Regions from separate parts of the Homo sapiens genome. Here region 1 is linked to region 2. The links come from fine-mapping of genetic effects on gene expression. A gene starts in region 2. The other region holds a variant in brackets. All regions are shown on one strand. Distances are between the middles of the regions. Region 1 holds the start of PLBD1-AS2 (PLBD1 antisense RNA 2). Region 2 holds the start of GUCY2C-AS1 (GUCY2C antisense RNA 1).

Region 1 (16,390 bases), 130 kb after region 2:
TAGTGTTTTAGACTGCATGCTCATTAAGACAAGATGTTTAAGTATACAAGTTCTATGTTTCCCACACTCCACAACATTCACATAAACACATATCCACACAAACACATATACATTCTAATTCTGGGGGAAAGCTTTACTGAATCACTAAGGCTTCCAATGTACCATTTGATGTACTTCCAAAATTATGGATATTTTATTTCCCGTGATAATATATGTCTAAATGAAAAATGTATATTATATAACTGTCTTTTGGTCTATTTTGCCAGTATATATGTATATAATCTGTATATTATATAACATGTTACATTTATTATGTTTTGTCTATTTTGCCAGTATATATATATATATATATATAAATAATATTTATATTATATAACTCTCTTTTTGCCTATTTTGACCAGTGTGTGTGTGTATATATATATATATATATATATATATATATATATATATATGTGCATAGCTTTTCTTTGAACTTTTTGTCTATTTTGTCCAGTATTTGTATATATATGTATATGTATACATATATACACACATATATACATGTACATGTCTGTGTATATATGTGTGTATATATATGTGTATATACACATATATATTGATAAATGTCAAAACAATAATACCCAGTGAAAGGAATGAGTTACAGAAAAATGCATACAGTAAGACTCTAACTTTTTTTTTTTTAGTCAGAGTCTTGCTTTTTCACCCAGGCTGGAGTGCAGTGGCATGATCTTGGCTCACTGCAACCTCTGCCTCCTGGGTTCAGGTGATTCTCCTGCCTCATCCTCCCGAGTAGCTGGGACTACAAACTTGAGCCACCACACCCAACTAATTTTTGTATTTTTAGTAGAGATGAGGTTTTACCATGTTGGCCAGGCTAGTCTCGAACTCCTGACCTCAAAAGATCCATCCGCCTCAACCTCCCAAAGTGCTGGGATTACAGGTATGAGCCATTGCACCCAGCCCACACAATATGACTGTATTTGTGCAAATTCAAAAAAGGTAGATTTTAAAAAATATATCTTAAAAATATATATAGATGATAAATATATTATATATAGATGATAAATAATAGAGAGGCAGGTAATGAGCTATACAAAATTTAGCATAGTGGTGACCGCTGGCGGGAAAGGAGAGAGATGAGATTGGAGACTTCCAAGGCACTGCTAATGTTCCATTTCGTAAACTGTGAGTTGACTACATCAGTGTTTATTTATTTTTCCTTAAATGGTATGTATACATCTTTATTCTTTCAGATGTATAATATCATCTGTCCTCACTCTTCTAAGCAGTGTTCCAATGTATGGATGTATTATACAGTATAACAAAAGAAATGCAAATATCAATTACAATGGGATACTGTTTTGCACCTATGAGATTGGAAATAAACTAAATGTTTAATATGTTGTTGAGGATGGAAGAGTTTTATTTATTTATTTATTTATTTAGAGACAGAGCCTCGCGATATCACCCAGGCTGGAGGGCAGTGGTTGATCTCAGCTGCAACCTCCGCCTCCTGGACTCAAGCAATTCTCGTGCCTCAGCCTCTTGAGTAGCTGGGATTACAAGCATGCGCCACCATGCCCGGCTAATTTTTGTATTTTTAATAGAGATGGGGTTTCACCGTGTTAGCCAGGCTGGTCTCGAACTCCTGACCTCAGGTGATTCACTGGACTCGGCCTCCCAAAATGCCGGGATTACAGGCATAAGCCACTGTGCCCGGCCAGAAGAGTATAATTTAAACAATTCGTATGAGGACAATTTGGCAATATCTATTAAAATCTAAATCACTTCTAGGAATTTATCCTACACATAGACTCAAACACAAGCAAAATGAAGCGTCCAAGATTAATTATTGTGGCATTGTTTACAATATCAAAAGACTAGAAACCACTTGAAAATTCATCAAAAAAGAGTAGTTAAAAATATTATAATACATCCGTACGTTGGAATGCTGCTTAGGAGAGTGAAGACAGGCTGGGTGCAGTGGCTGACACCTGCAATCCCAGCACTTTGGGAGGCCAAGGTGGGTGGATCACCTGAGGTCAGGAGTTCTAGACCAGCCTAGCCAACATGGTGAAACCCCATCTCTACAAAAAACTACAAAAATTAGCTGGACATGGGGCGGGCACCTGTAATCCCAGCTATTTGGGAAGCCAAGGCAGGAGATTTGCTTGAACTCAGGATGCGGAGGTTGCAGTGAGCTGAGATCGCGCCATTGCACTCCAGCCTGGGCAACTAGAGTGAAACTCTGTCTCAAAAATAAATAAATAAATAAATAATAATTAAAAAAAGAAGAGTGAGGACAATTTTTACATCCAATATAAAAATATCCCCAAAACATTAAATGAAAGATACTAAGACAAAAAAAATCAAGGTGAACAACAGCACATATGACACACTACCATGTATGTTTTTAAAAATTTTATTTACAAGACATTTTTAAAACTCTGGATCCAAGATCACAGTGCCAGTAGGGAAAAATAAAAAAATCAAAAAACTCTGGCAGTATATGCAAAAAAACTAGTAAAAATGATTAACTAGAAATGGTAGTACCTGAGAAAATGGAGAACAGGTAAAGGAGGAGACTTTCTGATATAAACTTTGTTATAATTTTTTTTAAATCTTGACTAATAAATGAATAATTTATTCAAACAAACAAAACAGAGATGATATTTATATAAATAAAAATTGGATTGAATTTTTGCTTTGGTTTTAGTTTTTTGGTTAAAATGTCATTTGTGTTTGTCTTCCCACCACCTCTACCCCAAAACCAATTTGCTGATGCCTAACCCGGACCTGCTCCAGCAGATTGAATCTTCCTGGAGCCGTGCTCTCCAGTTTGCACAAAGTTCATGTTCAAGTACAATCTGATAATTGCTTCAAAGTCAATGCTGGCTGGTCAGTTAGTCTTATAGTAAACACACAATCAAAACCAAAAGCATCTTAGTTGAATGTTTTTGCTGTATAGCAGTGGTTCTTGTCTAAGAGTGGTTTTCTCTCCAGAGGACACTTGGCAAAGTCTTGGAGATATTTTTGGTTGCCACAACTGTGAAGTTGCTGCTGGTACCTAGTGGGTAGAGGCCAGGGATGACGCTAAACATCTCACAACGCACAACAACTGAAAAGAAAGTATCGGCCAGCTCAAAATGTCAATAGTGCCAAGGTTGAGAAGCACTGCTGTAGAGTGCAAACAGAAAGCTCTGTTTTACTCTCCAAGGAGCCACTCCCAAATTCTGGGGCTATCAAAACATGCCAAAACAGCTCTTTTAAACTATAAAGCCATAACAATTATTTTATAAGCTACAATAAAAATCTAGCGTACCTGTTAAATTAGAGACTCTTCGAAAATAAATAACTTTTTTTTTTTTTTTTTTTTTGAGATGCGGTCTCGCTCTGTTGCCCAGGCTGGAGTGCTGTGGTGCGATCTTGGCTCACTGCAACCTCCGCCTCCTGGGTTCAAGCGATTCTCCTGCCTCAGCCTCCTGAGTAGCTGGGACTACAGGCGCCCGCCACCACGCCCAACTAATTTTTGTATTTTCAGTAGAGACAGGGTTTTGCTGTGTTGGCCAGGCTGGTCTCAAACCCCTCACCTCGGGAGATCCACCCGCGTTGGCCTCCCAAAGTGCTGGGATTACAGGCGTGAGCCACCATGCACAGCCTGCAAGGGAATAATTTAATGGGTCCCTAACAAGAGGAAAACAGGAAATGATGTCTGTCACAAAACGATGTTAAGTGCAGTCTTTGTCCTTTCCTAGCCAATGACCCTGTTCCAGATTCAGTTCCTGAATAGTGTTGGAGATCTATTGGATCTGATTCCCTCACTCTCTCCCACAAAAAACGGCAGCCTAAAGGTTTTTAAGAGATGGGACATGGGACATTGCTCCGCTCTTATCAAGGTAAGACATAGCAGCTCCTTTTGCCTTGTTCTGGTTCATACAGACTTTTTCTATATAGCGCCCAAGTATAGCAACATCTCATCACCCCTGGCTATAACTGTATATCAGCTCATGAGTTCTTCAATGGTAGAAGTTAAGAACTGGAAGTAACTTTGATGGAGAGAATTGTAAGTACACGATGTTACATCTGTTCTTCCACCATTCCTCCCATGCTGTATGCACCTGCCACTCCCACCTTCTAGAATCTTCCATTTTGTTTTGTTTTGTTTTTGAGCCGGAGTCTCACTTTGTTGCCCAGGCTGGAGTGCAGTGGTGTGAGCTTGCCTCACTGCAACCTCTGCCTCCCAGGTTCAAGCGATTCTCCTGCCTCAGCTTCCCGAGTAGCTGGGACTACATGGGTGTGCCACCATGCCTGGTTAATTTTTCTTGTATTTTTGGTTTAGACAGGGTTTCACCATTTTGGCCAGGCTTGTCTCAAACTCCTGACCTCAAGTGATCCGCCTGCCTTGGCCTCCCAAAGTGCTAGGATTTCGAGCGTAAGCCACCATGCCCAGCTGGAGTCTTCCATTTTGAATGTTAGAAGGAAGAGTCTGTTTGGGGCCACATTAAAGGTTAATCTTGACTCCTTGGCCATATTTTCCAATAATCAGTATAGCAATAAACACTTACCTGAAATGGCACAATCCCTGTATGCCTCTTACACTTAAGACAATTGCAGTCAGTTAGCTATGTACATCTGTGTAATCCACTATGATTCTGGCTGTAGGTTCTTCCTGGATTTGAGAACATCCTTTTTGCTCACTCAAGCTGGTACACGTATGCAGCCATGCTCAGGATATATAAACACTGGGACTTCAACGTCATAGATAAAGATACCAGCAGTAGTCGCCTCTCTTTCAGCAGTTACCCAGGTAAATGAATTTAAAGGAACATCTGAGCACTTTGAGTACTATTCCTGGATAAAACCTTAGTGATTCAGTGTTAACTGCAATGGGAGAAGAAATGTTTAATGGTTAGTATATATTAACAAACAATCTGATTTTCAGAGGGCTTTTGAAGAAATATAGCTCAAATACTTTTATTTAATAGAATGACATAAACAAGGTTACTAGAATTGCCAAATAGAAGACACTTTGTAAATGTAAATGGCTACATCTAAATTTATTTCAACAAATGCCAACTGAGTATGTATCAAGTACAAGACTCTTTGCTAGGCTCTGCGGCAGAAGCAATGAAGACATGGCTGATCCTGCACTCAGGTACCACCTTGAGGGCGTGTAGTGTTTCTTTTATTTACTGCACTATCCACAGCACTTAACCTCAGTGTGTGGCATTGAGTACTTAATAAATTGCCAAATGAATGGATGAATGAATGTGTAAGTTTATAAACCTTACACTATACTCAAGAGGACAATATAAAGTGTAATATGAATAAGAGTAATAATATTACTGGATACTGTATGTGCTACAAAAGAAGTGTAACCAGTGTTGTCCATTCCAAGGAGGTGAGACTCACATCTGATTGTTGGGGAAAGAGAGGACAACCTTTGAGATAGACCATGAACATGGCTATCTCAAAGTGGCTAGAATTTGAAAGGATGGCTAGAATTTGAAAAAGTAGAGATGGACGGGAGGACAGTCCCAGTAGAGGAGAGGCTGCAAATTCCTGGGCCTAAATGCAATAGGCAGGTGAGGTAAATGAATAAAGCAGGACTGGTTTAAGAAAACAGTGGAGGCCAGGTGCTCACGCCTATAATCCCAACACTTTGGGAGGCCAAGGTGGGCGGATCACGAGGTCAGGAGATTGAGACCATCCTGGCTAACACAGTGAACCCTGTCTCTACTAAAAATACAAAAAATTAGCCAGGCGTGGTGGCGGGCGCCTGTAGTCGCAGCTACTCTGGAGGCTGAGGCGAGAGAATGGCGTGAACCCGGGAGGCGGAGCTTGCAGTGAGCGGAGATCACTCCACTGCACTCCAGCCTGGGCGACAGAGCGAGACTCCGTCTCAAAAAAAAAAAAAAAAAAGAAAAGAAAAGAGAAAGTGGAAACAATGGTAGCAAACATATGACCCACAGAAAGGAGGCAAGGATGAGCTCTCACTGTCTGTTCTCCATCCAAGAATTTCCAGACCCTCCAACTTAAGATAAAACTATGTATTTAAAACAACAAAACTCACTCTGTGAATCCAACAAAGCATGTGTGTTAGCATGTGTTAGCCCCAACCTCCTCAGGAAACATTATGAGCAAAGTCAAGGGGAAAACACCAAACATCTAAGGGTTCAACTGGATACACTGTAACCAGTTTGACCTTTAATTACGCATCCGTAACTTATGGGGTGGTTATACCAACCACCTGTCATATCTATCTACCTTTGTCGGAGTATTTTGCTCTTCCTATCAGAAATTCCTTTTTATTTTTAAAGTCAGGGTCTCACCCTATCGCCCCAGGCTGGAGTGTAGCGGTACAATGTTAGCCCACTGCAGCTTTGACCTTCAGGGCTCAAATGATCCTCTTGCCTCAGCCTCCCAAGTAGTTGACACTACAGGCACACATCACCATGCCTGACTAATTTTTTAAAAAATGTTTTATGGAGATGGGATCTTGCTACATTCCCCAGGCTGGTCTTAAGCTCCTGGGTTCAAGTGGTCCTCCAGCCTCAGCCTCCCAAAGTGCTGGGATTAAGGTGTGAGCAATCATGTCCGGCCCCTATCAGGAATTCTGACCAAGGGCATAACCCAGTATTTCTCTGTCCTTGTGACCTGATCCTTTCTTTGAAACCAATTTGATTTCATCTTTGTCTTAGTTTGCTTAGTTGTTTTAGCATTGAGGGGGACTGGGGACTCCTCTCTCTGAGTTAGACTGTGCTTTGATTCTTTCACATTCTATTACACTGACATTTAAGGACAGCAAGAGACAGAGCAGTCCAGTATTCTTCCTCTTCCTCATCTTTGTGATAAAATGCAATATTCAGATGTTATGTGCACTGCTTTGAAATCTCTGTGGAATACAATGCTCTCCAGTAGTGTTAACAGTCCTGGATCCCAGAGGTAGTGATGGAGAAGGTCATGGAAGATTTTCTTATGAAACGTATAATCCTGTTAACATTTGCATATGTATCCTTCCAGATGAGATACACAAGTAGATTTCATAGATAATATGTAGAGCTTTTTGGAGCAATTGAATCTCCAAGAGAGCAACAGACAGTTTTATATATACCCCAAAACATTTTTACAGGAGCCAATGGAACAGTGGGATTCATATTTTCTCTAACTGGGCAGCTTTGTTCTCAGCACCAAACAGGAAAACATGTGCAGTCTCATTTATGTTACAACTTATTTTATTAAGGGACCAGCCACATTGGATTCATCCAGTAGACATGACATAGAACTATGCTTTACGATGAAGCTCATGCCATCTTAGCTGCTGAGTCCAGAACAAAGCTGGATGGCTTCCTTGTTTTTCTTTGATGGAGTTGTTTAACAGGCTTGGTCTTTTTTAGTCTTTTCTAAAATACAAAGTGGAGATTGAGGAAATTATTTCACCTAAAGAGGCTAACATGCAATACCCAGGGAAGGTCAAAAGTATACCAAAGTATACCAGGTGCTGATAACCTCAGTACCACCCTTAGGTCTGGGCACAGGAACCCCACCCTCCCAGCTTGGAATTACCTTCATGAAAATTACCTAAATCCCCCTCCAGCATCCTGAGACTGGCCAGGCTGGCAGTATCTTGACCTGTGTCTCTGTGCATCTAGTTTAGAAAGCTCCTTTCCAGAAAATTTCAAAATCCCCTTCTAGTGCCCAAGACTGACCAAGGTGGCAGAGCCATCCAGGTCAGCTTCTCTGAGTCCAGAAAGCAACGCATGTGGACTCCCTATCTGGGGGCTCTTCTCCTCCATTCCTGCCCACGCATGGGTTCAACAAGATGCCCTAAGGAGCTCTGGGACTCAAGCCTATGGCCTGGTCCTGGTAAGCAGATTCCTCTAGTTGGCCCTCACAGTATATATTTTTTGCAAGATGGTGCATAACTGAGCTGTCAGAACGGTGGTCACACGATGACCTGGGGTGACTCTCATGTCAGAGCATATGTTCAGGGCTCTATGCTACTGAAAACCACCTCTTACCCTCGGGTTTCAGCATGCAGCAGGGGAGGACGGTAAAGCGAACTTCGACCTATGAGCTCCACATCTGGCCCCTGTCGTGGCCTCCTCACCCCTGCAGCTCTGTACCATGTGTCGGTCAGTCCTTGGGGCGGGCTAGGCCTGGCCCCTCTGAGGCCTTTTGAGAACCTTGCTCCACAACACAAACGGGCCTTTGCAGCAAATCTTTTGCTGCAGTTGGTGATGTGACTTCCTACTGTCTTGGGTCAGTCTTAAGCCAGATGGATTTTTCTGGTGTGATTGGGACAGCTCTTCCAGCTCGACTTATAGGCTTCTCACCTATCCTACCCACTGGTGCCCGTGGGTGAGGAGTGAAGGTGGGGGAGGGTTCAGCATGAAAAGAGATTTGACTCATGAAGACTTGACTTAAATTGTGAAGCCTTAAATTATGAAAACTTTACTTAAATTTTCCTGGGGCTTTTAGCCTGTTCTTTTATCTTTTTATGTACCTACTTTCAAATACATGCACTTAACATTTAAACAGGCTAAGCAGGCTCATGCCTGTAATCCCAGCAATTTAGGAGGCCAGGGTGGGCGGATTATCTTGAGCTCAGGAGTTTGAGACCTGGGCAACATGGCAAGAGCCCGTCTCTGCAAAAATACAAAAAAATCAGCCGAGTGTTGGTAGCTCATGCCTGTAATCCCAGCTATTTGGGAGGCTGAGGCTGAAGAACAGCTTGAGCCCTGGAAGCAGAGGTTGCAGGGAGCCGAGATAGCACCACTGCACTTCAGCTTGGGGGACAGAGTGAGGCCTCGTCTCAAGAACAACAACAAAGAGATTACATTCTAGGGAGGCAGCAATTAGCCTGAAGAGTCCAACAGAAAACATGTCGATCTATGTTTACACTGTAAAATTCCCAGTGTAGCTTTAGTAACCATAAAACAAATTATCATTCACAATTTTTTTAACACTCTGGGTAAGGCTTGCATTTGTGGTCATCATTAACAAAGCATAATAAGGATTTTTGAGTCATTAGAAGCCAGGATTCACAGGTAGAGTGGTAGATGTCGCAAAGTCATTAAGAAAATGGTGTTAGGGAACTGCAGAGGCAAGGAGATCTGTGTTGTTTCAAAACAAACAGGTTCCA[A/G]AAAGTCATGGTTTTGTAATAACAGTATTGCTACCTTTTTCTCATAACAAAAAATAGGAAATTAGCCAAGAACAATGCATTTAATAATAAAGAATACAAAGAGATGGTACCTGGATACTGTAACAAATCTTCACGTGCACTGATTGGACAATAGACAAAACAGATTGCCTTTCTCTGCCCATCATCCTAAATCTTCAATGATAAATCATCATATCTCACATGTACTGATGAATTTTTAAATATATGTTTTTAATCAAATTGTTTATATAGGCAGGGGCCCTGTTAAAAAAGACAAACAAACAACAACAAAACAACAACAACAACAAAAAACACTTGCCTGAGGCACTGGATACCCAAAGGAAAGTGGCTTTGAATGGCCTTGTTCTAGGAGTTTCTGTCCCTAACAAGAAGGGTTTTGAATACATGGTCTGTTTGCCTAGTAACAGCTAAGGCTGAGTAAGGAATGGAGAAGCCTTGCACTAGCCCTCCCCACACATTTACTTATTTTGGCAATGCAAATTAATAATCAAGGAGGTAAGACAAAGAGATAAATCACTAGAAAATGACGGCACTGAAATGGCAGCCAATACAATTGTGTGAAGACCTCAGCACAAAGATCTGATAGTTTTAACCAATCCAGAGAAAATTTACTTGTCAACAACATTGAGTCTTCCAATCTACTAATATAATCTATTTGTTTATTTCAGTCTTTAATTTGAGTCATATCATGTAGTTTTCAGTATTTAGGTCTTACATACCTTTAAGTAAGTTAAATCCTAAGTAATGTTTGATGCTACTGTAATCAAAATGTTTTTTATTCTTTTTTCAGTTGTTTGTTGCTCATATGTATTTATTGGTTACCCATTGCCACATAACAAATTGCTCCAAACATTAGTGGCTAAAAACAATAATGATTTAGTTACTCATGGTTTCTGTGGATCAGGAATTTAGATAGGGCACAGTGGGGATAATTTGTCTCTACTGTGACTGGGGCCTCAGCTGGAAGACTCAATGACTGAGGGGCTAAAATCTCTGATAGCTTAACTGAGACTGGAACATGCACTTCCAAAACGACTTACTAACATAGCTGACAGGGTGGTGCTGGCAACTGGTTCCTCTTCACTTGGGCCTCTCCTCAGAACTGCTTGAATGTCCTTCATGGCAAGACCCCTGGCTCCAGACGAAGCCATCCAAAAGAACAAGGCAGAAATAGTAATGCCTATTGTGACCTCACCTCAGACGTCACACACGCTCACTTCCACCAGGTTCTATTAATTAGAAGCAAGGTGTTATGACCAGCCCACATTCAAGGAAAGGCGATTAGAATCCACCTTTTAAAGAGAAGGGTGCCAAAGAATTTGTGGAAATTTGAAAACTACCACAATGTATTACGATTTTTTTGTACATTATTATCCTGAGATCTTTCTAATAGCTTTTTTGTAGATTCCTTGGGATTTTCTATATATACAATCATGACATCTCTAAATAAAGACAGTTTGACTTCTTCCATCCCTTGTATGTCTTTGATTGTTTTTTTGTATGATTGTGCTGGAGAAGACCTCCAGAATAATGGAGACCATAAGTGGTGAGCATGCAAATCCTTGCCCAATTCCTGACCTAGGGTGAAAAGTATTGTCTTTCACCATTAAGTATGATGTTAACTGCAGATTTTTTGTAGATGCCCTTTATAATGTTAAGGAAGGTCCCTGCTCTTCCTACTTTCTTTAATATTTTTATCAATAAATGAGTGTTGCATTTTTCTGAATTCTTTCTCAGCAATTGTTGAAAAGATCATATGAATTTTTTCCTTTATTAATATGATAAGTTACATTGATTGATTTTCAGATGTTAAACCACTTGAAATTCCTGGGTTAATCCTCAGTCATGATGTGTTATTCTCTGTATTTATTTTTAGTTCAGTTTACTAACGTGTTAATGATTTTTTTCATTTACATTCATGAGACATATTTGTTTGTAGTCTGCTTTTCTTATGATGGTTTTTGTTTTAGGATAAGCTTATCCTCATATCCTAAATGTGGAATTATTTCTTTCTCCTAAGTGTTTTAAGAGCATGTATATGATTAGTGTTATTTTATTCTATTTATTTATTTATTTATTTATTTTTAAAGACAGGGTCTCACTCTGTCCCCCAGGCTGGAGTACAGTGGTGTGAACATAGCTCACTGCAGCCTCAAACACCTAGGCTCAAGTGATCCTCCTGCCTTGGTTTCCCAAAATGCTGAGATTACAGGTGTGAGCCACTGTGCCCAGCCCATTTTCTTCTTTAAGTGTTTAATAGAATTCACGCGTGAAGCTAGATATGAAGGTTTTTATTTGTTGAAAAGTTATTAATTGTAAATTTAATTTCTTTCACTGCTACAGAACTATTTCAGTTTTCTAACTCTTCTTGAGTTAGTTTTAAAAATGTATCTTTCAAGGAATTTATCCCTTCTTTCTAAGTTATTGTTTTTATTGATATGAAGCTATTTATAATGTTTTTCTTAACCTCTTAATGTCTGTAGGATCTGTAAAGTCCCCATTATCATTCATGATATTGTCCATTTTTCTTCTTTATTAAGATAAAATTTCCATTTTTATATTTATTTTCTTTCTTCTACTTACTTTGCATTTAATTTGTAATTTTTTCTAGCTTCTTAATGTAGAAGACTAGATAACTGATTTTGATCTTTCTATCATAAGCAAATAAAATGATAAATTTTCCAATAAGCACTACTTTTGGTGCATCTGACAAATTTTGGTATATTTTGTGTTCATTTTTATTCCATTTAGAATATTTTCTAATTTATCACGATTTATTTAATCCATAGCTTATTTGGAAGTGTATTGTTTAATTTCCAAAAATTTACAGATTTTTCAGATCTTTGTCACTGTTTTCCAATTTAATTGCATTTTCTAATTTATTCTGAGATCAGAGAGCATATTCTGTATGATTTCAAATTTTTTTAACTTTATTGAGACCTGTGTTATGGCTCAGCATGAGTCTATCTCAATGAATGTTTCATATGCAGTAGAAAATAATGTAAATTCTAGTACTTCTGAGTGTAGTGTTCTGTAAATGTCAGTCAGTGCAAGTTAATTGATAGTGTAATTCAAGTCATCTATACTCTTAACTGATTTTCTATTTGTTAATCATTTACTACAAAAGAAATATTTATACCTCCACTATAATTATTAATTTGTCTGTTTCTCATTTTCTTATCTTTTTTCTCTAATCCCATGGCAGATTATATTTCTCATTTCATTTCTGGTAGTTTTGCTTTATGCATTTTGATACTCTATCATTTAGCACATACATTCATAAGTATGGTATATTCCTACTATATTGACCCTTTTATCATTATGAAACGTCTTTTTTTTTTGTCTCTAGTACAACTCCTTGCCTTAATGTCTACATTGTCTTATATTAATATAACCACTCCAGCTTTCTTATGCTTACTGTTTTCATCTTGTACTTTTCCTGTCTGTTTACTTTCTTTTTTTTTTGTCATTTCATACCAGCAATTTTATTTACACAGAAATAACATACAGGTATCTGTTATAAATGTCAGAGATCATCTCTACATTTCAGATCTTGATTCAGTTTAAGGGCCAATAAAGGAAGGTTCTTTTCTTTCCATTAAGTTTCTTGCCTTTGTTTTTTGTTGTACAAAGTGTGTAGTACTAGCAACTGCATTACCATAGCATGTCTTTAATTTTCAATTTGAAATCTTATGTGCTGGAGGAAAGTGCATCGTAAGTTTTTGTTTTTGTTTTTTTTCACCTTACAAATTCAAAAGACTAGAATAACGGTAGTCATCTGGAAAAAGTAAATCATGGATAGATATAATTTTGAAGCTGATGCTTAATGATGGCAGTGATTTTTAAGTGTGGTAACAAACGTTTTGGGAGCATGTATCCTCTGTCAAGATGGTACTAGTAACAGATTCAAAGTAGCACAATATCATATCAGACTGATGTGGGTTTTTTTATGTTTGAGATCAGTTGGTGACCCTGTTGTTCTTTAGTAAATTGGTGCCATAAGCTAAAGTTAGCATATTCATATTTTCCCTGCCAAAAGTCCTTCACAAATAACTGGTCATAAACTGAAAAAAAATTAATATCTGCAATATAAATGTGTTGTCTATTAGAGATGGGGCTAGATGTCTTAAGGATTTCTAAGTATATCTTAAAATTTATACGGTAGTAGTTCATACCAAGAATCATCTGGGGAATTTTAACAAAATATATATATGTTCTAAACCTCATCACTTCCCCATAAATGCAGCTTAAGTCTGTAAGTCTGAAGGCGTATGTGTATGTTGGGTGTTTTTCTTTTTTCTTTTATTTTGAGATGGAGTTTCGCTCTTGTTGCCAAGGCTGGAGTGCAATGGTGCAATCTTAGCTCACTGCAACTTCCACCTCCCGGGTTCAAGTGATTCTCCTGCCTCATCCTCCCGAGTAGCTGGGATTACAGGCATGCGCCACCACGCCCGGCCAATTTTGTATTTTTAGTAGAGATGGGGTTTCTTCATGTTGGTCAAGCTGGTCTCCAACTCGTGACCTCAGGTGATCTGCCTGCCTCGGCCTCCCAAAGTGCTGGGATTACAGACGTGACCCACCATGCCCGGCCTTGGATGTTTTTCTTTCAGCTCCTCCAGTACTTTCATATTATTCTAATATATTTTGTTGGTATGAAGCTATGAAGCAAAAGTCGCTATTACCAATGCATACATACAGTATACTGGTTTTAAGTTCCACCTCAGAGTGAATCTTAGAGCCTAGTGTAAGTGCTCCACTTTAGAGATGTACCTTAATTACTACTGTATTTGCAAATTAAGGGAAATTTAGGTCATCATTTGATTTTCTAAAACCTAAAAGGAACTGGCCATCATTACCAAGTCTTTCTAGATAATCAAGGGTAGATGGCTGTTTTTAATGTAGCAATTAATGTAGGCATTCCTGCTTTCGGGTTTAAGTATGAATCAAAGCATATTTTAATTTGTTAGCACAAACGGAATGTCTGTTTACTTTCAAACTATTTGTGGTTTTGTGTTTGTTGTATGTCTTTTGTAGACAGATAATTAGTACATTTTGCTTTCTTTTCAATCAAGTTTGACAGTCTCTTACTTTTGATGGAAGTGTTTGGGTCATTTACATTTACTGTAAATATTTATATATTTAGATTTAAGTCTGCCATTTCACTATTTAGTTCATTTCATCTCTATTTTGTTTCTCTGTTCCTCCTTTCCTGTCTTTTTTTGTGTTAAACATTTTAACAAAGGTTTTATAACAAAATATTCTATATTTTAATAAGTTGGCTTTCTAGCTATATTTATTTGCATTTTTAAAATTGTTGTCCCTGGGGCTTGTGATATGCATCTTTAACTCATCACAATTTGCATAAAGTTAATAAGCAATTATGTCTGCTAAAAAATATATAGGAACTTAAAATGGTAATTATCCCATTTAGTGCCTTCCATCCTTTGTGCTATTGTTGTCATATATATGCTCCATCTATATATGTTATAAATACACCAATATGGTGTTATGATTTTTTACTTAAAAACTTACTGTCTTTTAAAAAATTAAAACAAGTGTGTGTGTGCGTGTGTGTGTGTGTGTGTGTGTGTGTGTGTGTTGAGAAGTAAGCTGTTAAGTATATTATTTTCCTCTCTAATTTTTTTCTGCATTTAGATTTTTGGTGACTTCAGCTTTGTCGTGGGCTAGCTCTGGTCTTCTTTGTGATTATTGTATTTTAAGTTTGTTGTGCTGGTAGGAACTGCAAATTAATGTTTTTCATTAAATGTAAGGGTTTTTCACCAGTTATAGCTTCACATATTTTTTCCATCCTCTTTTCTCTCTCTTCTCCCTCTGGGACTCCAGTCATTTATCCATCAGATGCTAAACATTTTTGCACAAGTCTTTGGGGCTTTGTAAATTTTATTTAGTTTTCTTTTTCTCTCTGTTCTTCAGATTGGATGATTCCCATTAATCTTCTATCTTCAGGTTTTCTTTGTTTTATTTTTTGTTTATTTTATTTTATTTATTTATTTATTTTGAGATGAAGTTTCACTATTGTTGCCCAGGATGGAGTTCAGTGATGCGATCTCAGTTCACTGCAACCTCCACCTCCCAGGTTCAAGCGATTCTCCTGCCTCAGCCTCCCAAGTAGCTGGGATTATAGGCATGCACCACTACACTGGGCTAATCTTGTATTTTTAGTAGAGATGAAGTTTCACCATGTTGGCCAGGCTGGTTTCCAACTCCTGACCTCAGGTGATCCACCCGCCTTGGCCTCCCAAAGTGCTGGGATTACAGGCGTGAGCCACCATGCCCAGCCACAATCTTCAGGTTTTCTAATTCCTTCTTCTGCCATCTCAAATTTACTGTTGAAGTATACAGTGAGTTTTTCATTTCATTTACTGTACTTTTCAGATCTAGAATTTCAATTTTGTTCTTTCTTTAATTTCTAATTTTATGTTGAGATTCCCTCTCTGGTAACTCTTAAAACCATATTTTCCTGTTTTGTCTTTGTCCGCTAAACCCAATATCAAGACCTACTTGGAAACAGTTTCCAGTGACTTAAGTGTGGGGTCGTACCTTCCTTTTTCTTTTGAGGTGACAAATATAGCAAATACCATGACTTGATCATTACACAATGTATATACATATTTAGTATATTCTTCACCGCAAACATTTATCAGTTCCTTATGGCAAGAACGTTCAAAATCCTCTTTTATAGTTATTTTGAAATATGTAACACAATATTGTTAACTGTAGTGCCTGGTAATTTTTGGTTGAAATGTGGACTTGAAAAATAGCACACCATAGTGTCTCTGAAATGTGTATTTTTGAGAATTATGTTTTATTTTATTTTTAAATGACATATAATTGTACATATTTATAGGGGACAGTGTGATGTTTTGATGCATGTATACATTGTGTAGTGAACAAATCATGGTATTTAGAATATTCATCACTTCAAACATTTATCACTTTCTAATGGTAAGGACATTCAAAAATCTCTCTTCTAGTTATTTAAAATATATAATATAGTATTGTTAACTATAGTAAGCCTACTGTGCAATAGAATACCGCAACTTTCTCCTTCTATCTAACTGTAATTTTGTACCTGTTGATTAAGCCCTTTCCACCTTGCCTACCCTCCCCAGCTGCTGGTAAGCATTGTTCTTCTCTATACTTGTATGAGATCGGCTTTTATAGATTCCACATCTGAGTGAGATT
Region 2 (16,390 bases):
TATCTCTGACTAAATAAATTATTTCTCACCAATATAACGGAGATAATAATAGTTTCTATATCATGATATTTCAGGAAGAATAATATGATAATGCATATAAATCACTTAGCACAGAGCCTGGTATATTGTAAACAGGAAATAAATGTTCATTGTTATGTCGAAACATGTGAAGTTACTAATTTGATCACTTTTTTTTACCTAAATAGTTTTATCTTATATTGCTATTTAATAGATGACAAAACTGAAACTCAGAAAACTTAAGTAATTTTATTCAATGTCTTCAGCAAATGAGTGACAGTGAAAAAATTTTGATCTTCCTACAATCTATGTTAAGATTGTGCAGTGACCCTATACACTATGCTAGGAGTTCAGGAAATATTCTTAGCAAAAATGTGTCACTAATAATCGAGGGACTTATTGACTCATTACATTTAGTGCCACCCTAAATGCAATGAAAAGGTTTTTTGCTTTTTCTAAATAAATACATCTCCCATAAAAATGCCCTCCAGAGATCTCTGGGCTAAGAAGCCAATCCAGGTGCCATCTGATTAGACTATTAATGTCAACAATGTTTTCAGTAAATTTGAAACAGAGCTATTTGAACCCATTTTACACTCTCTGTCATGATCCAACTTATCTGTCAGGCAAAAATCAAGAATGGCCTCTAACATACTCTGATCTTGCCCTAGGGTATGACGGTCCAGTGACCTTGGATGACTGGGGGGATGTTGACAGTACCATGGTGCTTCTGTATACCTCTGTGGACACCAAGAAAGTATGTCTCACTGCTTATCAGAAAATTCAGGGTGCTGTGACTGGGTGAGGAGGGGTAACTTGGAAGAGGAGCACTAGCAAAAGAATTAGAGAAATTATGTTTAGGATCTGAAGACAGTTCATTTCAACTTCACAATTACGCCCCACTTAGGGTAGTATTCCTTAAGCATTTTGACCCATAAAACTTCTTACTCAGAATATCCACTGTATTTACTATTAATATATCTATACCTCTATATCAATATCCATATAGATAGGTATAGATATTTTAAATATCCACCCAGAATAAATTACATAATATAACAAAAAGACTATTGATGGGATACCAATGAGAGGATCACAAGTCTTTCCTAAGAATTGTTTACTCATTTTCACAACTAAAGATTTCAATGAAATATTCCCTGTTATCTCCATTTGAACTCTCAGGAAAATCATTAAATGTGTAAACCTGAGCCCCACATAAACAGCCCTGTAATGCTATGCTTTTATTCATATTATATTCACTTTTTTTTCCTCACCCAATAGTAGGTTCTTTAAAGAAAATAAGTGGTCTACTCACCTCTCCATCTTTTCAGTGCATAGCTTCTTATCTGGCACACCATTGACGGCTGGTCAGCATTTAATCACAAACAAACAAAAACAAAACAAAAAAAACACCTGTCTTCATGTCATCCAATGTTGTATCCATCCAAACTATAAAAGCCACTGTTCCAGCCAACCAAGTGGTCAGTAAAAAGGTTTATATAGGAGGTCAGGTCCTGACATAACATAAAATTTATTCATTTTTTTTTCATTTTCCAATGTGAGTGTTATGACAGTCTAAGTCATATACTAAATGTGTACATCAACCCAGCTTTGTAAAAGATATCTGCAATGGAAAATGTGAAAAGCTAGAGAAAAGATGTCCACGTTGAGAAAGCTAAACCAGAAATTTGCTAGCAGCATTCCATAAATGTAATTCGTAGTTTCTAGATACTATATTGAACCTTCAATATAATGTTATGTTTCGCATACATTCCGTAAGAATACCTTAACATAAGATCCCATCAATACTTCAGTTACTAATAGCGATTACAAAGGTACATGCATTCCTCTCTGAGTTATTTGCATCTGGGATGATGCCCATGATCTTCACAGAGAGAGGCAGAAACGTGTGAGATCTAATGTCAGTCTCATAACTATACTTCAAAATGGAAAATGTTGCTCTGTGCATTTATTCTCTCTATAAGCAAATTCGGGTGAATTTTTCAATAATGTAGTACCATCGGTTGTGCTATATAACATGTATATTTGGGAAAATCAGAGATCTTCTCAAAATGTAAGGTTAAAGGGATGATAATCTATATCCAGGATAGGTCTCAACAGAGATTCAATATGCCACATCCTAACATAAAGGAAAAAGAAAGAAAGAGTAAAGTTATGAAAATGTAACATTGGGCAGGGTGCAGTGGCTCACCCCTGTATTCCCAGCACTTTTGGAGGCCGAGGCAGGCGGATCACTTGAGGTCAAGAGTTTGAGACCAGCCTGGCCAACGCGGTAAAACCCTGTCTCTACTAAAAATACAAAAATTAGCCGGGCATGGTGGTGCATGCCTGTAATTCCAGCTACTTGGGAGGCTGAGACAGGAGAGTCATTTGAACCTGGGAGGCAGAGGTTGCAGAAAGAAAATATAACTTTGCTGTCCAGAACATTTTGAGGGTACACTGGTAAATTTAAAAGGATGGTCACTGATATAGTTTGGCTGTGTCCCCACCGAAATCTCAACTTGAATTGTATCTCCCAGAATTCCCACGTGTTGTGGGAGGGACCAGGGGAGGTAATTGAATCACGGGGGCTGGTCTTTCCCATGCTAGTCTCGTGATAGTGAATAAGTATCACGAGATCTTACGGGTTTATCAGGGGTTTCCACTTTTGCTTCTTTCTCATTCTCTCTTGCTGCCACCATGTAAGAAGTGCCTTTCACCCTCCACCATGATTATGAGACCTCCCCAGTCATGTGGAACTGTAAGTCAAATTAAACCTCCTTTTCTTCCCCAAAAAAAAGAGAAAAAAAAAATTTTTTTCAGAGGTTTCATGGACTCCCCAGCGAGGCTGGGGAGGCCTCGCAATCATGGTGGAAGGTGAAAGGCACATCTTACATGGTAGCAGGCAAGAGAGAATGAGAGCCAAGTGAAAGGGGAAACCTCTTATAAAACCATCAGATCTCGTGAGACTTATTCACTACCACGAGAATAGCAGGGGAAAGACCGGTCCCATGATTCAATTACCTCTCCTGGGTCCCTCCTACAACACGTGGGAAGTCTGGGAGATACAATTCAAGTTGAGATTTTGGTGGGGACACAGCCAAACCATATCAGTCATCTTTCAGATCTCCCTTACAAAATTGACTCAATATATGCAGCAGTAATTTAAGGATATATTAATATTTCCATTGGCAAATGACTTGAAAATGAAATCTTTTATTTTAGAAACTAATTAATGTCATGTACAAGAAAAGCATATTAGAGCCAAGGAATAGAAGAGATTAGAAAATTAAGTAATGGATAGAAGTTAAGAAATGTAGTTATTTCAGGGCCCCTTGATATGTATCAAAATGACATAATGGATTTTAGCTCTGCTGCATTTTCTTGAGAGCTTTTTTCAAAAGCAACTTAATATTGTGGAAAACACTAGTCTTTCATTTATCATGTGACTTGGAGCTAGCCATTTAATATTTCTTAGCCTCTAGTTTAACATTTGAAAAATGAAATACTTGAACTGATTCACTAAAGGCCCACAGAATCTGTGCTGGACAGACAGGAGTTAATGGTGTAGTGTATGAGCATAAAGAAATAGGAAACTAATCGGTCCATCTGAAGTTATATCTGTGTTCATGCTGGGAATCAATAAATGATCCTAACTAGCTGGTTAACAGTTGCCTTTTTTCACTGAGAATTGTTATGGAAATCAAGCGTCATTGTGTAGAATCATTAATCTCACCATAATTTGTTCTATAATGTTTTACTGTTCATCCTTTTTCTTTTTTGTGCCCTGACACAGTACAAGGTTCTTTTGACCTATGATACCCACGTAAATAAGACCTATCCTGTGGATATGAGCCCCACATTCACTTGGAAGAACTCTAAACTTCCTAATGATATTACAGGCCGGGGTAAGATATCCCTAATGAATTTTCTCTCCCTGACACTGTTTTCCTGGTAAGAAAAGTAAAGTCTATTGTTTATGTAATTAGCCTGTGCTTTTTGCTGTGTTTTGTCTGCTGTCCCAGTTTGATTTCCTGCTGTCCAGTTTGTAAATGTGGTCCTTACTTCCCTGCACAATGAATGATATTATAGTTCTGATTCAACAGTGATTTCTGGCCAGGCATGGTGGCTTATGCCTGTAATCCCAGCACTTTGGGAGGCCAAGGCAGGAAGACTGCTTAAGCCTAAAAGTTTCAGACCAGCCTGGGCAACATGGTGAAACTCTGTCTCTACCAAAAATACTAAAAAAAAAAAAAAATTACCCAGGCATAGTGGCACACAGCCGTGTTCCCAGCTACTTGGGAGGCTGAGGTAGGAGGACCAGTTGAGCCCAGGAAGTTGAGGCTGCAATGAGCTATCTTTGTTCTACTGCACTCCAGCTGGGCAACAGAGTGAGATCCTGTCTCAAAAAAAAAAAAAGAAAAAGAAAAAAAAGGAAAGAAAGAAAACATTCTTATTCTAATTTAGCTATACCTATCTTTAAAATATGTCCTACCATTTGACATAAATTATTCCACAGAAAACCGGGTTTGACAACTGGCAAAAATGAGCACAGAGACATATATTCTTACTCCATTTACATTTTACTGCAATAAGCTAAAAGGTTGTGTATTTCAGCAAGAAATACTTGACATATCAGGCTGAGGGGTGACCAGTGATCCTGGCCTTTACAGTCTCCCCTGTTCCCATACTGGACACATATTTGGGTTGCAATGATAGTTACCCACCTACTTAAGATTAGGTCCTATCATGTCATGAATAGCCCTAACATGACTTGGCCAGCTTTCACCCGTGCAAGCTGCACACTCACCATCAGCAGCAGGCAGGGCCACTCAGGATCTCCTGGGCAACGAGGCCTCAGGACAATCTGTCCATGACTGGCTTGGCCAGGGCTTGCCATAATGAGTGGTAATTCCATGTGACTAGGAAAAATCTTTAAGAAAAAGTCTTAAATCTGGACAGATATTTAGCCCAAAGATTTAAAAAAAAAAAAAAAAGTAGAAATACCATCAATAAAATTATTTAGAGCCAAGCGTGGTGGCTCATGCCTGTAATCCCAGCACTTTGGGAGACTGAGGTGGGAGGATTGCTTGAGGCCAGAAGTTCAAGATAGCCTGGGCAACACAGTGAGATCCCATCTCTACAAACATTTATAAATTAAGGCTGGGAGTGGTGGCTCACGCCTGTAATCCCAGCACTTTGGGAGGCTGAAGTGGGTGGATAACGAGGTCAGCAGTTCGAGACCAGCCTGACCAACATGGTGAAACTCCGTTTCTACTAAAAATACAAAAATTAGCTGGGCATGATGGTGCGTGCCTATAATCCTAGCTACTCAGGAGGCTGAGGCAGGAGAATCGCTTGAACCCAGGAGGCAGAGGTTGTTGTAAGCCAAGATCACGCCACTGCACTCCAGCCTGGGGAACAGAGCAAGACTCCGTCTCAAAAATATATATATATAAATTAGTGGACATAGAGGTGCATACCTGTGGTCCCAGCTACTCAGGAGGCTGAGGTGGGAGGATCACTTGAGCCCAGTAAGTTGGGGCTGCAGTGAGCCATGATTGTGCCACTGCACTCCAGCCTGGATGACAGAGCAAGACCCTGCCTCAAAAAAAAAAAAAAAAAAAAAAGAAAATTATTATATATTCACAAATGGAGCATCAGGCAACCAATTAAAAATAATTATTTATGAAGAATGTTAAATGACATGGGAAAACTTATGATGTAAAGTAATAGAAAAGTACAGCTTCTTATTTAATGAGATTCTAACTTTGTAAAACAATGCATAGAAATAAGACTGGAAAGAAATATGTTAAACTGTTAAGAGTGGTGTCCTCTGACTGATGGGATCCTGCAAGATTTTTTTTGCTTTATTCTATTTTTCTGAATTTTCCAAAATTTCCACAATGACTCTGTATTAGTTTCTTATTTTCAAAAAGTATTAAAAATTATAAGCTACAAATATTTTTATACCAGCCCCGCTCTACAGCCAGAAACTCTGAAAATTTGATCTGATATAAAGGGAACATTTCTGGTTTGAAGGGCTTGCTTGTGTCAGAGCTATACCTGCGTTTCTAGTTTTCTTTCACTCCATGAGTCAAATTAAGTCCAAAATGATTCCTGTACTTTTATCCAACAGGTATTAGCAGCTGATTAACGAAATGAGGGAGGGGGGAATGAAGATGGCATTCTTCTAGACAATAAGCAATCCTGAGCTGACTTCAGATTTATTGCTATGATTGCTTTTTAAAGTCGAGTTTTATTTAATAAGCTTTTAAAACTTTCTGGAACCATCTTCAAGCTTTCTAGTTTTAAACCAAACTTGACTTCTGAAATATATCTCTTTTCTCATGGGCTTCTGCAACTCTCAACTTCTTTTGTAACTTTTTGAGTTCAAATTATTTTTTCTTTCTTCTTAATTATAACTGTCAGTGACAAAGTTAGGTTTGTGTTTTTAATGTATTTCCTTCAAGTTTTTTGGTATTTTGGTTATTCAATAGGTCTGTGATTTCTAAAGTGCTGAACTTCTCAAAAAGTACTTTTTGAGAGAGTTCTCTTTACTTAAAGAGAACTGACTTCCTCAATGGTTGAACTAGTTTACAGTCCCACCAACAGTGTAAAAGTGTTCCTAAAGTGAACATTAAATATTCATACTATATCCTACAGGGACGTTATATTATCCTGAGCAACTTTACTTCAGCCTCAGTTAACTAACAACCTCAGTTAGCCAGAGCTTTTCAATACTTAACTGTTACTTACTACATTTAGCTCTAAACTTTACCAATGAAGCAATAATATAGGAGTTAAAAAGAAATTATTTAGGCAGGTAGCGAGGGTACAGGAGTCCTCAGTAAGGCTTTTTCTTTTCTTTTCTTACTCTTTTTTTTTTTTTTTGGAGACATTGTCTGGCTGTATCACCCAGGCTGGAGTACAGTGGTGCAATCTTGGCTCACTGCAACCTCTGCCTCCCGGATTCAAGCGATTCTCCTGCCTCAGCCTCCCGAGTAGCTGGAATTACAGGTGTTTGCCGCCACGCCCGGCTAATTTTTGTATTTTTAGTAGAGACGGGGTTTCGCCATGTTGGGCTGGCTGGTCTGGAACTCCTGACCTCACGTGATCCGCCTGCCTCGGCCTCCCAAAGTTCTGAGATTACAGGCATGAGCCACGGCGCCCAGCCAGGCATTTTCTTTTAATTGAAAACAGTCTCCAAACCATTTCTTTTCTAGCAAAAAGCAGCCTGAAAAGCTGAACTGCAAGCATAAATAAGCAAGCTGGAAGCTTGCGTAGATGAATGCCCGCAGCTGTACTAAAAGCCAGGTCCACCCAATATAGCGATTTCCCCTCCCTTTTCTTTGTAGCCATGTGTGGGGGTGTCATTGTGCCGGCCGGGTAAAGCCACATGTGTGGGTGTCATGGCGCCAGCCAGGTAGAGGCCGCATTTGCATAATAAAAGATTAGGGTGAGAGGGCCAGTTTCTTCAGGGCTATGTAAATGGCACACTGGTCAAACCAATCCCCTGGGCCCTATATAAATCAGACACCGCCTCCTGAAGCCTCCCTATATAACCTACTGCTTCCCACCACAAGCATGGTTTTTTCCCTTCAGAGCCCTCCTACCTCTCTACCGGTGAGCTGTTCTCTTCTTTCCTGCCTATTAAACTTTCCGCTACTTGACCCGCTCCGTGTTTGCGTCTGTGTCCTTAATCTTCTCGTCACGCGATGACGAACCTTGGGTATGTCCCCAGACAATGAAGCCGCTTCAGCAACTCAACCTTTGAAATAGTATAGAAATACGATATGCATGACTGGAACTTGCATCTGTGTGTACACAGCTACTAAGTAACAAAACATTTCACCAAGAGATTACACCATCCCTGTTCTTTCATTTATTTAACAAAGATATTTATTTAATGCCAGACAATGTTCTGAGCACCTGGGAAATAGCAATGGACAATGCAGATTTGGTGCCCGTCCTCATCCAAGTCCTCAGCATCTGCTTCCTGTATCACAAAAATGACGTCAAACTGACTTCCTGCATTAGTCCTGCCCACTTCCATCCAACCCATCCTGCTATCAGAAAGAAAGCACAAGTCCAATCATGTCACTGCACTGTTGCTAACATGTCAATTGGCAACTCTGCTTTACCTACAGAATACAGTCCAAGTTACTTAATACAGCACAAAGTGCCCGTAATCTCCCTACTTATCTTTTACTCACCTATCCCTTCCCCATGCTCTCAGCTTCCTCCCTACTTCCTTAAAGCGTCATGCAAATTTATGCCGCTGTGTCCTTATTTATGCTACTCCCTCGGAATAGAATTTATCACTTCTCCATAGAGGTGGGAAACATCTACTCATCCTCAAGATTTAACCGGAATCTCAACTTTCCTTAGCTTTTTTTTTTTTTTTTTTTCCTGAGACGGAGCCTCGCAGTGTTGCCCGGCCTGGAGTGCAGTGGCCCAATCTCGGCTCACTGCAACTTCCGCCTCCCAGGTTCAAGAGATTCTCCTGCCTCAGCCTTCCAAGTAGCTGGAACTGATTACAGGCACCTGCCACCGCGGCCGGCTAATTTTTATGTTTTTAGTGGAGACGGGGTTTCACCATGTTGGCCAGGCTGGTCTCGAACTCCTGACCTCGTGATCCACCCGCCTTGGCTTCCCAAAGTGCTGGGATTACAGGTGTGAGACACCGCGCCCCCTCAGGGCTTATTCTTATTCATATTTCCTTGCCCCAACACAGTGCCTTGGAATGAATAAATGAATGAATGAATGAATGAATGAATGACAACATGAGATAACTGAATATATTTCTACTCTGGACTCCAGCACTCATCTATACTCTGTTAATTTCAGTCAATTTATTTCTCTTTTCTAAGTGTGAGTTTCTTCCCCTGTTAAATCAAGAAGTTTATCAGGTTCCTTCCAACCGTAATATCATATGACCTTGAGGTTATAAACTCTCATTCATTGTGAGATGAGTTAAATAGAATGTGATAACTACAGCAGCCACCAGAAGGCAGCAGAAGCTTAACCTTGGAATTTAGAACTTGATACTGCGTTTATCTAAAAGGCAAAACTGAAAAGCATGTTTAATTAAAAATGACTACATTTAAATAGTATATTTAAATACTATATATAAATATTATAATTATATCTAATACAGTGAGATGTTCATACTGTAGGAGGCAGAGAATTGAGGTGGGCTGAGGAGTCCCCATATTCCCTCCAGTTTATACTCTAGTCTAGGGGATGTGCAATTTTGATAGACCAGTGAGTGGGATTATCTACACTGTTGAAAATGTATTTCTTGTACTCACTTTCGTTTTCTGGGGTTTAGGGCGTGAGAATGGTGGGAGTGGCAATAGTGGTGATAGTGATGGAAGTGGTGATTGTAGTAACAAACAGAATTCACCAGTTAAATGTGCCCATAATGCAAGTTCAACTCCAAAGTATGAATTTATTTCTGCCCCGATGAGAGTAGAAATCCAAAGTTCACATTTTCACCATTGAAAATTTCCCATGAACACAAAACAAGGTAATAGAGGCAAAGTCACATGTCTGCAAAGCATAAACCCTTCAAATTCAGCCCTTATACAAAGGAGCTGTAGTGTTTACCCCAAGCTAAACCATCTACTTCAGAAGGACATAATATGATTAAACAAAAACAGTTTTAAAATACATATGACATGAGACCCCTAATGGCACAGGAGTCTTTCTATATGAATTTATTTATGTATTTTAATGTCCAAGCACCTTCTCCTTGCCTCTTCTCAGGCAATAAGATGACCAGGGCCAGGTTTTTCTTCTATTATTTTTTATTAGCCATTTTTATTGATACTTTACCAGGTCTTGTGCTGGGTGCCAAAGGTGTAAGGATGAACAGGAATGAATAAGTAGGACATGGACTGTGCCCCCAGGAGTTTAGATTATGGTGTCATGATAGAGAATACAGTGTGAAGGTTTAGGATTCTGCTTTCATAAAGAAGTCCTAAAACCTCATTTTCGGGGCACCTACATCAATTATATTTTAGCACAGAAAAATTCACACATGGCTGGGCACAGTGGCTCACGCCTGTAATCCCAGCACTTTGGGAGACCAAGGTGGGCTGATCACCTGAGGTCAGGAGTTCGAGACCAGCCTGGCCAACGTGATGAAACCCCACCTCTACTAAAAATACAAAAAATTAGCTGGACATGGTGGCGTGCGCCTGTAATCCCAGATACTTGGGAGGCTGAGGCAGGAGAATCTTTGAACCTGGAGGGTGGAGGTTGCGGTGAGCCGAGATCGTGCCATTGCATGCCAGCCTGGGCAAAAAGAGCAAAACTCTGTCTCAGAAAAATAAAAAGAAAAATTCACACACATGATTTTAAAATCCAGTAGCAGATGTGTTCATAATGGAAAGTGAATGCACCTGATCCCACCTCTGTGCATCTCTGCTCTCTCAGTCACTTCTGCTTTTACTGTTTTGCATATCTAAATAATATGCTTCTATTTCTTGATTTATAAGCTTTAGCAGTTATCTATTAATTTTTTGTATTGATACATGAAGATTTAGCTCATCTTCGCTAGCCCTCTTTCTCACTTCTTCCCATATAGTTATATCTTTTTTGTCGGTACAATTATTGAACACCTTTTTCATTTTAATTAATATGCATGAGCTTCTAGTGTTGTCCTATCAATTGTATATAAAATATCTTGCCTCCCACTTTGTAAGATGAAGATGTTAGTGCCACAATTCTTTCTTCTACCTCCTTCCCATCTCCAAAATTCTCCTATATTTTTCTTTGCCAGGGTTGATAATATTTATTTGGTAACCAAAATAAAGACCTCTGTTCTTTACCTATAACTTGATTCTATAAGTTGAAAACAAGGAAACATTTTCATTATGTGAATATTATTTATATAAAGCTAAATTGTATACCGTGATAACATCTTTCTTTTTTTTTTTTTTTTTTTGAGACGGAGTCTCATTGTGTCGCCCAGGCTGGAGAGCAGTGGTGCAATCTTGGCTCACTACAACCTCCACCTCCCGGGTTCAAGCGATTCTCCTGCTTCAGCCTCCCGAATAGCTGGGATTACAGGCACCCACCACCACGGCCAGATAATTTTTTGTATTTTTAGTAGAGATGGGGTTTTGCCATGTTGGCTAGGCTGGTCTTGATCTCCTGACCTCAGGTGATCGGCCCCTCAGCCCCCCCAAAGTGCTGGGATTACAGGTATGAGCCACCGCACCCGGCCAACATCTTTCTATATAGCCCCAATGTCTCCCTTTTGTACCACAAAGGAAAATTGATTTTCTCTCCTTTTTTAATACCTAATTCTCAAAGTCAGGGCACATTTTACTTTGTTTCATTTTTGGATTATGCCTTCCTTGAACATTTTTTCCTTAGAATTCCTGATTGGATTTCTCTTTTCTTTCCTTGCTGTATAAAGAAACATGTCTTCTTCACCATACTCCTATCACTTCCCAGCTTCTTACACATTCTGTCTATTGCTTGGAATCTATTCCATTTTTTCTTCTTGAACCTACTGACTTCCTAATAGGGAATTCATTGCGGCATATATGAACCACGACTTTCCCGTGCAGTCTTCTTGTTGCTGTCCTTCTCTGTGTAGGAGTATTCCTTTGTATACTCAGACACTGCTTCAGTGCTTCCTTGGGTTGGATCCACATTTTCCTGGATTCCACTTACTCTTCTGAGAGTCTTTCCACTTACTCCATCTATACAACTCCACCCACCCACTAGTGTTCTAGTAAATAAAATCCCATTCTTCATTGACTTCCCTCACTAACCCAGGAGAGCTTGGAAAGAACCAGCATGCAACACTGTCACTTAATATTCTATACTGACTTACTTTTCTTCCGGCATGTGCTCTGTATTTAAAAACAAGTTGTCTTAGTTGGGTATGGTGGCTCATGCCTGTAATCCCAGCACTTTGGGAGACTGAGGTTGGCGGATCGCTTGAGGCCGGGAGTTCATGGCCAGCAACATGGCGAAACCCCATTTCTACAAAAAATACAAAAATTATCCGGGCATGGTGGCGCACACCTGTAATCCCAGCTTCTCGGGAGGCTAAAGCAGGAGAATCACTTGAACCAGGGAGGCAGAGGTTGCAGTGAGCCAAGACTGCGCCACTGCACTCCAGCCTGGATGACAGAGTGAAACTCTGTCTCAAAAAGAAAAAAAAATACATGTCTCATCCTCTATGAACCCTTCTTAGGTATATTGGTTTCAAGGACACCAGGTAGACTTCTACCACCAACTTTTTTGTACGTGCTCTAAACTATTTTATGTTTGTGTAACATTTGGTGATTCTTATTAGAAAGAATAGAGATGTATATGCTGTCAGAATAGCCAAAATTAAGCCACTTTCCCTGGGTACAATGCCAGACAAGGCTGTCAGAGAGTAGGGACACAGGACTTATATTACCAGAGAGAAATTAATAAAAAATAAATTTTTTTAAAGGGTTCTCTTTTCCCTTCCCCAAATTACATTGTACAGCTAGAATCTTGGAAATGCTTTTGCTCTCTTGTCTAAGGTCCTTCCTAACGCATTTTCCGCCACAGGCCCTCAGATCCTGATGATTGCAGTCTTCACCCTCACTGGAGCTGTGGTGCTGCTCCTGCTCGTCGCTCTCCTGATGCTCAGGTACAGCCGCCTCTATCATGCCTGTGTTCGGTATCCAGAGAGGCAGGAAGGGAAAGTGGGAGAGGTCTGTTGTCTGTTGATGATGATGAATATTCACAAAGAAGCCTGCAGACTGACCTAAGATAATGAAGACATTCTGCATCAAAGACTAACTGAAGGGCAGAATATTATTGAGTGAATAGATTAGGGCTTTGAAGCCAAAGATGCCTGAACTCAAATCCCAGTTCTTTGAGTTACTAGTTCTGTGGTCTTAAGCGTGTTACTTAGCAACTTAAACAGGTAACTTAGCTTCAGTTTCTTCATCTGAGCTGTTGTAAGGATTAGAAATGGAACATGTATACAAACTACCATATAATAAGCATATATAGATAAAATAGTTATTTTTATTATGCTGTTATATTGTGGGAGACATCAAACTCATTAAATTACATATTTAGACTGGGAGAGGTTTTAGAAACAATTTATTCCAAATCTCCTATTTTAGCCTGAGGAAAGAGAACCCAGAAAGTCAAATGGCTTCTCTAGAGTCTTATCACCAGGTAGTGGGTGGGGCCAGAACTAGAACTCAAGCCTTCTCACCATCAGTTCCATGATTTTTCTGCTCAACTTGGGTCTGCCAAATGCCTAGCCAGAGACATTGTGTGTACTAAGAAATATTTATTGAATACATAAATGAGTGAGTAAATACCACACTACATCCTAATCTGCATATGTTAAATGCCAAACTTATAATACTGTATTATATTACCAGGTTCACTTGCACTTCCTAGCTAAACAAGACAACAGTTTTATCTGTGTATTACACACTTTGGTCTGTGTGTCATTATACTTTCTCATGTGAATGTCCAGCCTGCCATATACTGGTTGATGTTTTCTCCAGAAAAGGAAGTAGACTATTTTCTTCAATCTGACAACACCGCTTGGCTCCTGTAACTGTGTTGCTCAGAAATACAGGTGATGGTCTACAATGTGTGGTGACCATTTAGTGAAGAGTGAGAAGAAACCAAAATTTTCCCCCAAAAGCAAATCTAAATGGGAATCACTTTAAGATAGGGTAAATCACAAGATCAAAGATAATAACAGGTGTTTCTCATTGTCTCTAAACATGGCAGGCAGAGATGGGGCTTCCTAATGACCAGTGCAATGCTATGCCCATGAGGGGGCCTGGCAGACAGGTGGTACACATGCAGTTTGCCATTACAACAGCCTATGCAAGAAAACTAGCAAACCATTTAAGAAATCCCCTAATTCAGTATGAATGACAGTTGGCTCTGCTGGGTCCCAAGAGTCTCCTGGGGTACAGAGCTGAGAACCCAAGAGCCTTTAAGGTCTTGATATTCATCCTACTTGCCTCCAGGTCTTAGGGTCAGTAATATGCTATTTTACATGCATTTACTTGAAGAATACTCAGACTTAGATGGAAGCATACAAAGAGAATAATCATTTCTGCTTAGGGGACATTAAGGAAGGCATGGCCTTGAGAAGGTGAGAATGAGTTTGTCAAATAACCAAAAAGCAAAGGCAAACAGGGACAAAACAGGTCAATAGAAAAGAATATCAGTTCCAGAATCAGATACAAGCAAGAACTTATAATATGACAAAGATGACAGTATGTGACAGCTAAGAAATAATGTTGGTGGCCGAACACAGTGGCTCACACCTGTAATCCCAGCACTTTGGAAGGCCGAGGTGGCTGAATCATGAGGTCAGGAGTTCAAGACCAGCCTGGCCAACATGGTGAAACTCCATCTCTACTAAAAATACAAAAAATTAGCTGGGCATGGTGGCAGGTGCCTGTAATCCCAGCTACTCAGGAGGCTGAGGCAGGAAGATCTTGAACCCGGGAGGCGGAGGTTGCAGTGAGCAGAGATCGCACCACTGCACTCCAGCCTGGGCAACAGAGCAAGACTCCGTCTCAAAAAAAAAAAAAGAAAGAAATGATGTTGGTAAGGTAGGCTTTCCACATGTAAAAAACAAAATTAAAACAGGTAACTTAGCTTCAATTTCTTCATCTGAGCTGTTGTAGGGATTAGAAATGGAACATGCACACAAACTACCATATACTAAGCATTATATAAATGAAAATAGTTATTTTTATTATTATATTGTATTATGTTGTATTTTATTATTATTATATATCTAAAATAATACACAAAGACATAGTTTACTCTGTGGAGTTTTAAATGTTAATGCATAGTTTATGTGGAGTTTTAAATGTTTTAAATGTTTGATTATGTGAAAATCAAGCTTCAAAACTTAGAATAAATTAATAAAAATGACTTTTTAAAATTATTTTTATTTTTTTGAGACCGAGTCTCACTCTGTCACTCAGGCTGGAGTGCAGTGGCGCCATCTTGGCTCACTGCAACCTCCACCTCCTGGGTTCAAGCAATTCTCGTGCCTTGGCCTCACTAGTAGGTACAATTACAGGCGTGTACCACCACACCTGGCTAACTTTTGTATTTTTAGTAGAGATAGGGTTTCGCCACGTTGGCCAGCCTGGTCTCAACTCCTGACCTCTAGTGATCCACCCACCTTGGCCTCCCAATGTACTGGGATTATAGGTGTGAGCCACTGTGCCTGTCCAATAAAAATGACTTTATGATCTCAGTTTAGGAAAGTAGTTCTCAGTCAAGATAAAAAAGGAAAAGTCAAAGAAAAAATACATAAATATGACGATAATAAAATCAAAACTTTCTGTAAAACAAAGTTAAAGGAAGTCATAAACTAGGAAAAGGTATTTGAAAACTAAAGGGACAAAGGATTTATTTCTCAAAATATATTAAGAACTTATGTAAGTTAACAAGGATAAGAAAAATATACACACTAGGAAAAAATGAGCAAAATTATAAATACATAATTCTATATAATTCTGAGTCTATATACTCTATTAAATAGCTAGAAAATATTTGAAAGGATAATATCACTTGTAATCAAGAAAATGCAAAGTAATGCAATAATGAAACACTGTTTCACCTTCATCATAAAGGTTAAAAAAAAGTTTATCAATACCAAATGTTGACAAGAATATAGAAAATGGGAATTCTCAAGATAAGAAGGTAAATTAATTGATAACTACTGCTTTGGGAAGCAATTTGGTGATATCTGCAAAGTCGAAAGTGTACATCGTCTATAGCCCAAGAATTCTGCTTCATCTATACCAGCAGTCCCCGACCTTTTGACACCAGGGACTGGTTTCATGGAAAACAATTTTTGGGGGTGGGGAGAGTTTTGAGATGAAACTGTTCCACCTCAGATCATCAGGCATTAGTTAGATTCTCATAAGGATAAGGAGTGCACAACCTGGATCCCTCACATGTGCAGTTCTCAATAGGGTTCGCGGTCCTGTGAGAATCTAACGCCACCACTGATGTGACAGGAGGTGGAGCTCAGGTGGTAATACTGACCTCTCACCTCCTGCTGTGCAGCTTGGTTCCTAACAGGCTACGGACCAGTACCAGTCCATGGCCCAGGGGTTGGGGGCCTAATCCCCAACCTACACTATCTGGGGACCGATACTATCTGAAGGAAACTATACATTTTTAACATTTTGTAGTTGAGATAGGTGTTGTTACATTTTCTCTGTACTTTTCCATTTTCTTTAAACATATTTTTTGAAAAGGCACAGATGGGTAAGAGGAACTGGCTTATTTAGGGATCTGGTGTATTCTCTCTGGATTAAAAATTAACATTTTTGCCTCTCAATGTCACCAACTTTACATT

What was found. PIP is the estimated chance that this variant, and not a neighbour inherited with it, causes the effect. A credible set is the group of variants that fine-mapping cannot tell apart.
Region 1: its variant is the best candidate, but not a certain one, in a credible set for the expression of GUCY2C-AS1 in whole blood (INTERVAL, PIP 0.80).

What each region holds. Positions count from the first base shown.
Region 1 is chr12:14,524,076-14,540,465 of GRCh38, reverse strand. It overlaps PLBD1 (phospholipase B domain containing 1), which reads left to right. Exons shown (of 11, transcript NM_024829.6): 5 at 3,756-3,896; 6 at 4,663-4,807. PLBD1-AS2 (PLBD1 antisense RNA 2) reads right to left here and starts at 10,327. Exons shown (of 5, transcript NR_187784.1): 1 at 10,225-10,327; 2 at 9,256-9,424; 3 at 4,566-4,881. The variant A/G (reference allele first, on the strand shown) is at 9,146.
Region 2 is chr12:14,657,258-14,673,647 of GRCh38, reverse strand. GUCY2C-AS1 (GUCY2C antisense RNA 1) reads right to left here and starts at 8,012. Exons shown (of 6, transcript NR_186173.1): 1 at 7,951-8,012; 2 at 7,635-7,789; 3 at 5,502-5,619; 4 at 1,334-1,382. It overlaps GUCY2C (guanylate cyclase 2C), which reads left to right. Exons shown (of 27, transcript NM_004963.4): 9 at 690-775; 10 at 3,815-3,926; 11 at 12,586-12,667.